Linked DNA regions of Homo sapiens: region 1 is linked to region 2. Evidence: fine-mapped expression QTL. Tissue or cell type: spinal cord. Region 2 holds a variant in brackets; the other region holds the start of a gene. All regions are shown on one strand. Distances are from middle to middle. Region 1 holds the start of SPATA6 (spermatogenesis associated 6). Region 2 overlaps SPATA6 (spermatogenesis associated 6).

The links. PIP is the estimated chance that this variant, and not a neighbour inherited with it, causes the effect.
Region 1: SPATA6 starts here. The variant in region 2 is the best candidate, but not a certain one, in a credible set for the expression of SPATA6 in spinal cord (GTEx, PIP 0.88).

The regions. Positions count from the first base shown.
Region 1 is chr1:48,469,524-48,473,918 of GRCh38, forward strand. It overlaps SPATA6 (spermatogenesis associated 6), which reads right to left and starts at 2,681. Exons shown (of 13, transcript NM_019073.4): 1 at 2,435-2,681. The coding sequence starts at 2,485. LOC124904175 (a long non-coding RNA gene) reads left to right here and starts at 847. Exons shown (of 2, transcript XR_007066074.1): 1 at 847-1,429. RefSeq lists a silencer at 2,363-2,752 and an enhancer at 2,963-3,012.
Region 2 is chr1:48,407,736-48,412,130 of GRCh38, forward strand. It overlaps SPATA6 (spermatogenesis associated 6), which reads right to left. Exons shown (of 13, transcript NM_019073.4): 5 at 3,729-3,853. Among named protein-coding and RNA genes, the nearest start is that of SPATA6, 62 kb to the right of the region's middle. The variant T/C (reference allele first, on the strand shown) is at 2,262.

The DNA.
Region 1 (4,395 bases), 62 kb after region 2:
TTGTGTATCTGTTTATATCAAAACCAGTGAAAATGGTTAAAGCAGATGAGTATAGGTGGGAAATAGTTTTGAGCCTGGAAGCAACACTTCTCTGAGTATATCATGTTATAGTCTTGAACTTGAACCATGTAAATGTAAAAAGGAAATAGACAAGAAAGGAACTAAAATCAAAATGAAGATGTTAAAAATATCTAGGGTCATATAACCTTTCTATTCAATCAAAGCCAAATTAATCAATCAATCAAACATGTTTAACTTTTACGTCTGCTAGTGGGGTTTTTTTTGTGGGGGGGGCGGTCAGGGGCGTTGTTTGTTTGCTCCTTCTGAGCATCAGAGCCATTTTAAAAGGCTTTTGTTGTTCAAAAATTCGGGAACATTTTGCACATCTGCTTCTAAACAGTTGTGCAATCCTAGATAAATAATAGCCATGCTGAGCATCGATTTTCTTGGCTGTAAAAAGGGATTGAATCCAATGATTTCCATCTAAGATGTCTCGGAACTATAAAATTCTGTGACTTAAATGTTTGTTGGGGAAAAATATTATTTCCACCATCATAGTTTTCTTTAGCTCTGATAAGTAACAAAGCTCCGTTATACAGTGAATTACACAGTCATTCACTTTTCTGCAATACAACTAATACTCAGGAGAAATGTAGCTATTCCTCCGACTCCTTCAAGCAGTAATCAGTTACAACAGAGTACTTCCTCTTAGAAAGTTTGTATTGGCAACGTTAGGGAAGCTGCAGCCAGCCAGTCAGGCAGCTGCGCTCACCAGACTGCTAAACACCATTAGTTGGCAGGAGGAGGAAGAAGCCAGTAACAAAATCTATTAAGGCTGAACTCTGAAGGAGTTTCACTAACTTGTGTCCTGGGCCAAGGGATCGAGAAAGTTTCGTGCATTCTTCTTGCTAAACTAATTTTACTTTACAAAAAGTTGTCAAAAATGGCAGCTTTGGGAGGAAAACAAGCAAAGCTAGGGCTATGGAGTTTCCGAGAAAAATCTCTGCAGGCTTGAAGATAAAGGGAGAGTCCAAGAAAATTTCTACTTCACCACCACTGCCTCACACTCTGCCCCACGCACACTTGCCTTCTTTAAGACCTAACAAAAGACCTAAAACAGTCCTGTGATTTTCCTAGGGGTTTAAGTTCTGTGCTGCAGCAACCTCATTCTAACGTGACGAAGGCCAGCCAGGAAAGGCGGGAAGCTGCAAGCACGGGTTAAGTGGAGCCTGGCCAGTAGGGTGTACAGGAAGGAAATGCAGAGGGCTCCTGGCTGCAGCACCCAGGAGAGTAATGGTAATATTTCAGCACTCTCAACCCCCAAGTTTTCCTAGGAGATCAAACAGAAGGCAATATACATAAGAAGACTTACTGAGTAAGAAGGAGCGAAGAGACCGAATGGTGAATTTTGGTTCCAAACTCCGTACAGGTCTGTGCCTGCAGGACTAAAACGGGGTGTGGAAAGGGTCTTGTGGAGATTTCCTCCAGAACAGACAAGCGGGAGTATTCCTCTAAACAGGGGAATGAGAGGGTTCTCTAAAGAATGCAGGGGAAGAAGTTCAAAACCCTTGGAAGTCTTCTGAGATCAACAAGGGGAATAGAGTTTTCTCCTAGCATGGAGAGGTCCAGCCCCTTCACTGGATGAGTGGGGTTCTCTGCCCCAGCTGGACTTCCACAGGAGGATGGAGGAAAGCATCCTCTTGAGCAAGTCTGGAGAGTGAAGGGGTGGGGTTGCAAGGTTGGAGAAGGAGGTGTTTCCCTCATAAAAATGACTGGGCCTTTCTTGCAATGGCTGGCACAAAGTCGGAAGGGTCTGGGGACGGGAGGGGCCTGAAGTGATTTCTGAGGAGTTGGGTTTTTCCTGTAAGGCCCTGGGAGGGAAGGCAAGGTACTTTGCGCAATGACACATTTCAGTTGTTGGATGTGAAGATTCTCCTTCGAAGACAGAATAAAGAAAGGCCCCTTCATTAATGCGGGTTTGAAACTGGTCTGAAATGGTGTGCCTGCAGGGATTCGGGAGGAAATGCGACGCCCACCCCCAGACTTGGGAAAGGCGGGGGCAATAATTCTCTAAGAGAACTGGAGCCCGAAAGAGGAATGAAAAGCCCCCGCGCCGCGCACATACACTCTCTCTCACTGGAAAGTTAGGAGCGAGGAAAGAACTCTGAAGTGATTTGGGAACGATCTGAAAGCGCGCAAGTTGGAAGTCGGGTTGAAGCCAGCATAGCGGAGCAGGGGTCAGGCCTCTGCGTGGCCGGAGTGGGAGAGCGCTTCTGAGAACAAGATGGGGCAGGACCGAAGGGGCGTGAGGTCGACGCTCCCTAGGGATGATTCGGAGGGTGAAGGAGGTTTGGGGGTGGTTCCGGGCTCTCGGAGGTGACTGAGGGAGTCCCTGAGCCAATGCCCGGGGGTGGGAGGCGCTACCGGTACTCACTGAGCTGATCTCCAGCGCCAGGGCGCACTGCAGCGCCTTCACCTTCGGCATCCGTGCGGGGAGGGGCGGCGGGGAGTGACCCCGGCCACGGGCCCGAGTGAGGCGGGGAGACCTGGGGCTGGGCGGGGACGGGGAGGAGACGAGGTGGCGGCGGCGGTGGCAGCAGTGGCCCCCAGGCCGGGGCCCGCGGTCCAGCCTGGGTTCCGCCGGAGAAGCAGCTGAGCGCGGGGCGCAGACTCGTTGTCATGGCAGCCAGGAGGGGCGGGGCCGGAAGAGAGGCCGCGCGGGGCACTCCAGGGCTACCCGCGCTGGGACGAGCGCTGGAGGCGGAGCTTGACGAACGCCGAGCGAGGCGGAGTCGGGCAGGGGGCGGGGCTTCCGAAGGGGCGGGGTGAGGCAAGGCAGCTCTTCTGTGACGTCAAACTGCGCCCAAAGCCGGACGAAAGGGAGCTGCTGTTTGTATAATGGGACGGTGCTCTGTTCAGGGAGTTGGAGTTCCTGTAAGGCCGTCGGAGGGAACCCCTGAGTTACAACGTGGTGATGGCACCTTGGGCTAGTGGCGACCCACTGTGGCCTCAGTTTTCCCAATTGTAAAAGAATAATAATTATTGTTAGTCCTCCTATTTAAATTTCACGGCACGGTTTACAAAGCCAGCATAAGGATACTGGGAATTAGGGAAGAGACTTGCCCAAATCAAAGTCGGAACCAGGACTGGAACCCAGGAGCTCTCAAGTTAAACCCCAGTTGCCTCCCTGAGGAGAGGGGCTTGCATCAGATGGTCCATACTCCTAGTCTCCTATTCTGTGATTCCCTTTGTTAGCGCGTTCCCTTTTCCCTTCAAATTTTCCTGTCTAATTCACCCATGTATGCGTCTTAATGCATATTGCTTAAGTGGAACTGTCAATGAGGTGCCAACAATAAGTCCAGCTGTGAAGGGCCTGACAATAGACCATCAAAGATAAAAAGAACCTAAGAGATTGCCCAATCCAATCATGTTAAAAATCATTTGTATTGCAAAATACATTATACATGCAGAAGTGTATAAAACACGTTTATCTTAATAATAATGTGAACAGTACCTGTACAACTAGCACCCGGTTAAGAAATAAAACATTACCAGCACCTGAAAAATGCCCCCAACGATTACATTGCCTTTCTCGCCCTGGAGTAACCACTACCCTGACTTTTGTACAATAATTCTCTTCCTTTTGCCATTCATGTATGCATTTCTAAACAAGATATTGTTTAATGTTTTCCGGTATTGATAGTATATAAATGGTATTAATACTGTATGTATTCTTCTGTGATTTGCTTCTCCCACTTAATATTATGCCACCGGTGATGCTGTGTAGCTGAAGTTTTTTCCATTGCTGGACAGTATTCCAATATAGATTGATTTATCCTTCCTACTATCAATGATCACTTACACTGTTTTCATTTTTAGCTATTATTAACAATGTTGTGAACATTGTAGTACAAGTCTGTGTCTATTAATGCACATGTACTAGCGTAGGAGTGGGTTAGCTGGGTATTAGGGTTTTGCACATGTGGGTCTTTAAAAAGTAAGACCACACCATTTTCCAAAGTAGTGTACCTATTTATGTTTCTGGTGCTTATGTATAAGAGTTCTTATTTTTCCACATCATCAGCAACATTTGTGTTTGGATTTTTAACTTTTGTATATTTGGATGTGTGTATTTTAGGTATTTCATTGTGGTTTTATCTTGAATCTCTGGGTACTGTTGAGGTTGAGTACCTTTGGTTTTGTTAGCCTTTCCATTATCTCTTATTGAACTGCCAAGTAGTTATCTTGCCCCCTTTTCTGTTGGTCTCTCTCTCAGTTCTTTATATACTCTGGATAATAATTATATGTCTACTCTATATGTTGCAAATATCCTTTCCACTTTGTGTTTGTATTTTAATTTTACATATAGTCTGTGATGAACAGAAGATAAATTGT
Region 2 (4,395 bases):
AGTTTTATAAGAACTCTCAATCTCTTCAAACTGCCATTCGTAGAAGTCCTAATTTTTATATATTTTTGTTTTAATAATCCATCATCTTCCAAATAAATGCAAAAGTAACTCAAATTAAATGATGAAAAGTAAATCCCTCTTAATGTTCCATACTCTTGAGTTTATATTACCACATTGGTATAATACAGAATTTTAAATTACATTAAAGAGACCATAATTTTAAAATGTGATTATTTGTTCATTGTATGTTTCCACACAGATCTTGAAATACTCTTTGAAGACTTTCATAGTACAGAAGCATGCTAATGGACACTGAAATATCCCCAAAGAAAGTATAGTTTTATAGACTTGCTACTTAGTCAACTTTTATACTTTCATAAAGATGAAGCTGCTTTTTCTTGGAATAGGGCATATCATAAATCTATAGGAGAAATTACTTAGTTAACTATATTTGTTCATATATCAACACTCTCCTTATTCGGACTACTCTAATATTTTATACAATTAGTTTTAAAGGTCTATCCAAATAATTTCAAGCTGGACAATTTTTGCTTTTCCTCTTTTGAAATGGCATGGGCTTCTCTCAGTTTCTCTGCATGGAAGACTTACTTTCAGCAATAAAATATTTTCAAATCATCCACAGAACTTGAAGGAAGTTATAGTAAAGGATAGAGAGTAAGCTGTCACTTGATGCAGCTTTTAATTTTAGGTGTATGAATATATATTTCCATTATATACATATTTTACAATTAATCTATCTAAACTCCTACTAACAGACATATCAATTATTTCAATTTTTCACTATTATGAACCAACAGGTAAACATTCTTAAGAAGGCTCTTAGTGTACCAGAGAGAATACATCTTTAAGATAGATATTGTATTAGTTCATTTTTAATGGTACTGATAAAGACATACCTGAGAATGGGCAATTTACAAAAGAAAGAGGTTTACTGGACTTACACTTCCACATGGTGGAATGCAGGGAGGAGCAAGTCACATCTTACATGGATGGTGGCAGACAAAGAGAGAGCTTGTGCAAAGAAATTCCCATTTTTTAAACCATCAGATCTCATGAGACCCATTCACTATCATGAGAACAGCGTGAGAAAGACCCATCCCCATGATTCAATCATCTCCCACCAGGTCCCTCCCATAGCACATGAGAATTATGGGAGCTGCAAGATGAGATCTGGGTAGGGACCCAGAACCACACCACATCATTCAGTCCCTGGACCCTCCCAAATCTCTTATCTTCACATTTCAAAACCAATCATGCCTTCCCAACAGTCCCCCAAAGTCTTAACTCATTTCAGCATTAACTCAAAAGTCCACAGTCCAAAGTTTCATCAAGACAAGGCAAGTGCCTTCCACTTTTGAGCCTGTAAAATCAAAAACAAGTTAGTACTTCCTAGATACAACGGGGGTATAGGCATTGAGTAAATACAACAACTCCAAATGGGAGAAATTGACCAAAACAAAGGGGCTACAGGCCCCATGCAAGTCCAAAATCCAGCAGGGCAATCAAATCTTAAAGCTCCAAAATGATCTCCTTTGACTCCATATCTCACATCCAGGTCACACTGATACAAGAGGTACGTTCCCATGGTCTTGGGCAGCTCCGCCCCTGTGGCTTTGCAGGGTATAGCCTCCCTAATGGCTGCCTTCACTGGTTGGCACTGAGTGTCTGCAGTTTTTTCCAGGCACATGGTGCAAGCTGTCAGTAGATCTACCATTCTGGGATCTGGAGAATGGTGGCCCTCTTCTCACAGCTCCACTAGGCAGTGCCCCAGTAGGGACTCTGTGTGGAGGCTCTGACCCCACATTTCCCTTCTAGGCTGCCCTAGCAGAGGTTCTCCATGAGCACCTCGCCCCTGCAGCAAACTTCTGCCTGGGCATCCAGGCGTTTCCACACATCTTCTGAAATCTAGGCAGAAGTTCCCAAACCTCAATTCTTGATTTCTGTGCACTTGCAGGCTCAACACCACATGGAAGCTGCCAAGGCTTGAGGCCTGCACCCTCTGAAGCCACGACCCAAGCTCTATGTTAGCCCCTTTCAGCCATGGCTGGAGTGGCTGAGACACAGCACCAAGTCCCTAGGCTGCACACAGCACAGGGACCCTGGGCCTAGCCCACAAAACCACCTTTTCCTCTTAGGCCTCAAGGCCTGTGATGGGAAGGGCTGCTACAAAGGTCTCTGACATGCCCTGGAGACATCTGCCCCACTGTCTTGGTGATTAACATTCAGCTCCTTGTTACTTA[T/C]GCAAATTTCTACAGCTGGCTTGAATTTCTACTCAGAAAATTGAATTTTCTTTTCTATCCCATTGTCAGGCTGCAAATTTTCCAAACTTTTATGTTCCATTTCCCTTTTGAAATTGAATGCCTTTAACAGCACCCAAGTCACCTCTTGAATGCTTTGCTGCTTAGAAATTTCTTCCACCAGATACCCTAAATCATCTCTCTCAAGTTCAAAGTTCCACAGATCTCTAGCACAGGGGCAAAATGCTGCCACTCTCTTTGCTAAAGCATAGCAAGAGTCACCCTTATTCCAGTTCCCAACAAATTTCTCATCTTCATCTGAAACAACCTCCGTCTGGACTTCATTGTCTATATCACTAACAGCATTATAGTCAAAGCCATTCAACAAGTCTCTAGGAAGTTCCAAACTTTCCCACATCTTCCTGCTTTCTGAGCCCTCCAAACTGTTCCTCCATCTGCCCATTACCCAGTTCCAAATTCACTTCCACATTCTCGGGTATCTTATAGCAATGCCACACTACCTCGGTACCAATGTACTGTATTAATCCATTGTCATATTGCTAGCAAGAAATATCTGAGACTGGGTAATTTATCAGGAAAGAGGTTTAACTGACTCACAGTTTTACATGGCTGGGAAGGCCTCAGGAAACTTACAATCACAGTGGAAGGGGAAGAGGCAAATCATCTTACATGGCAGCAGGCGAGAGAGAAAATGTGTGTGCAGCAGGAAATGTCAAACACTTATAAAACCATCAGATTTCGTGAGAACTCACTTGCTATCATGAGAACAGCACGGGGGAAACCACCCTCATGATCCAATCACCTCCCACCAGGTCCCACCCCTGACACACAAGGATTACAGGGATTACAATTCAAGATGAGATTTGGGTGGGGACACAGAGCCTAACCATATCACATGGTATAGCAGCATATGAAAGATTCTAAGTTTTTCACTTTTATCAGATTTATTAAATTTTCCCAATCTTATAGCTATATAAATGAAATCATATGGTTGTTTTAACTTGGATTTCTCTGAATACTAATGAGTTAGAGTATTTTTTCAAATGTTTATTATCATCCCTTAGAGAGAAAAATAAAGAGAAGAAAGAGACAGAGAGACAGAGATGGGATGGGGAGAGAAGGGGATGACAGAGATTTGAAGAATGTCAATTACAATTTAAAAAATTTTTAATGGCACTTTTTATTAAATTATTTTCATTTAGATTTCAATATGTTTAAGTAACCAATTTACTGTATTAGTCTGTTTTTACATTGCTGTAAATAAATATCTTTATATGTTTAAGTAACATATTGAAATCTAAAACAATTAAGATTTAAACTACAAAACAATTAAGTAAACTAAATTACACTTTGAATTTGTTCTTCACATTTAAGATGGCGAGCACTATGCGGTGGTTTCTGACAATGATTTTCCATCAAAAACTGATTCAGAAAATTGCAAGCACTTACTCGAAGGCCAGAAATCCTCCTCATGGTAACCTGGCGGTTTGAATCATGGTGTCCAGACATTTGGTTTGGACCCGGAAACATGAAATCTCGTGTATTTTCGTCATACGTAGACAGTGTTTCACCCACTACAAGAAAGATACCCTATGATTCAAATTATAATAAAATATTCTATTTAGAAACAAAATCATCAAGTATGATATATCTACTGCCTGATGCCTTATTGAAATACCTGTTTTGGGTCATGTTTATTTTCTATGAAAGGAAAATTAAAATAAAGATATGTTAAAAATATTAACACATTTTCCTTTTTCAGAAACATACTACAAAAATATGAAGTTGGTCCAACATTTATATGTCAGTTACCATCTCCACATTGGTTTTTGTTTGTTTGTTTTTGAGACAGACTTTTTTTTTTTTGAGATGGAGTTTCACTCTTTTTGCCCAGGCTGGAGTGCAATGGTGCCATCTCAGCTCACTGCAACCTCCACCCCACCCTGGGTTCAAGTGATTCTCCTCCTGCAGCCTCCTGAGTAGCTGGGACTACAGGCATGCGCCACCACACCTAGCTATATATTTTTAGTAGAGATGGGGTTTCAACATGGTGGCCAGGATGGTCTCAATCTCCTGACCTCATGATCTGCCCACCTTGGCCCCACAAAGTGCTGGG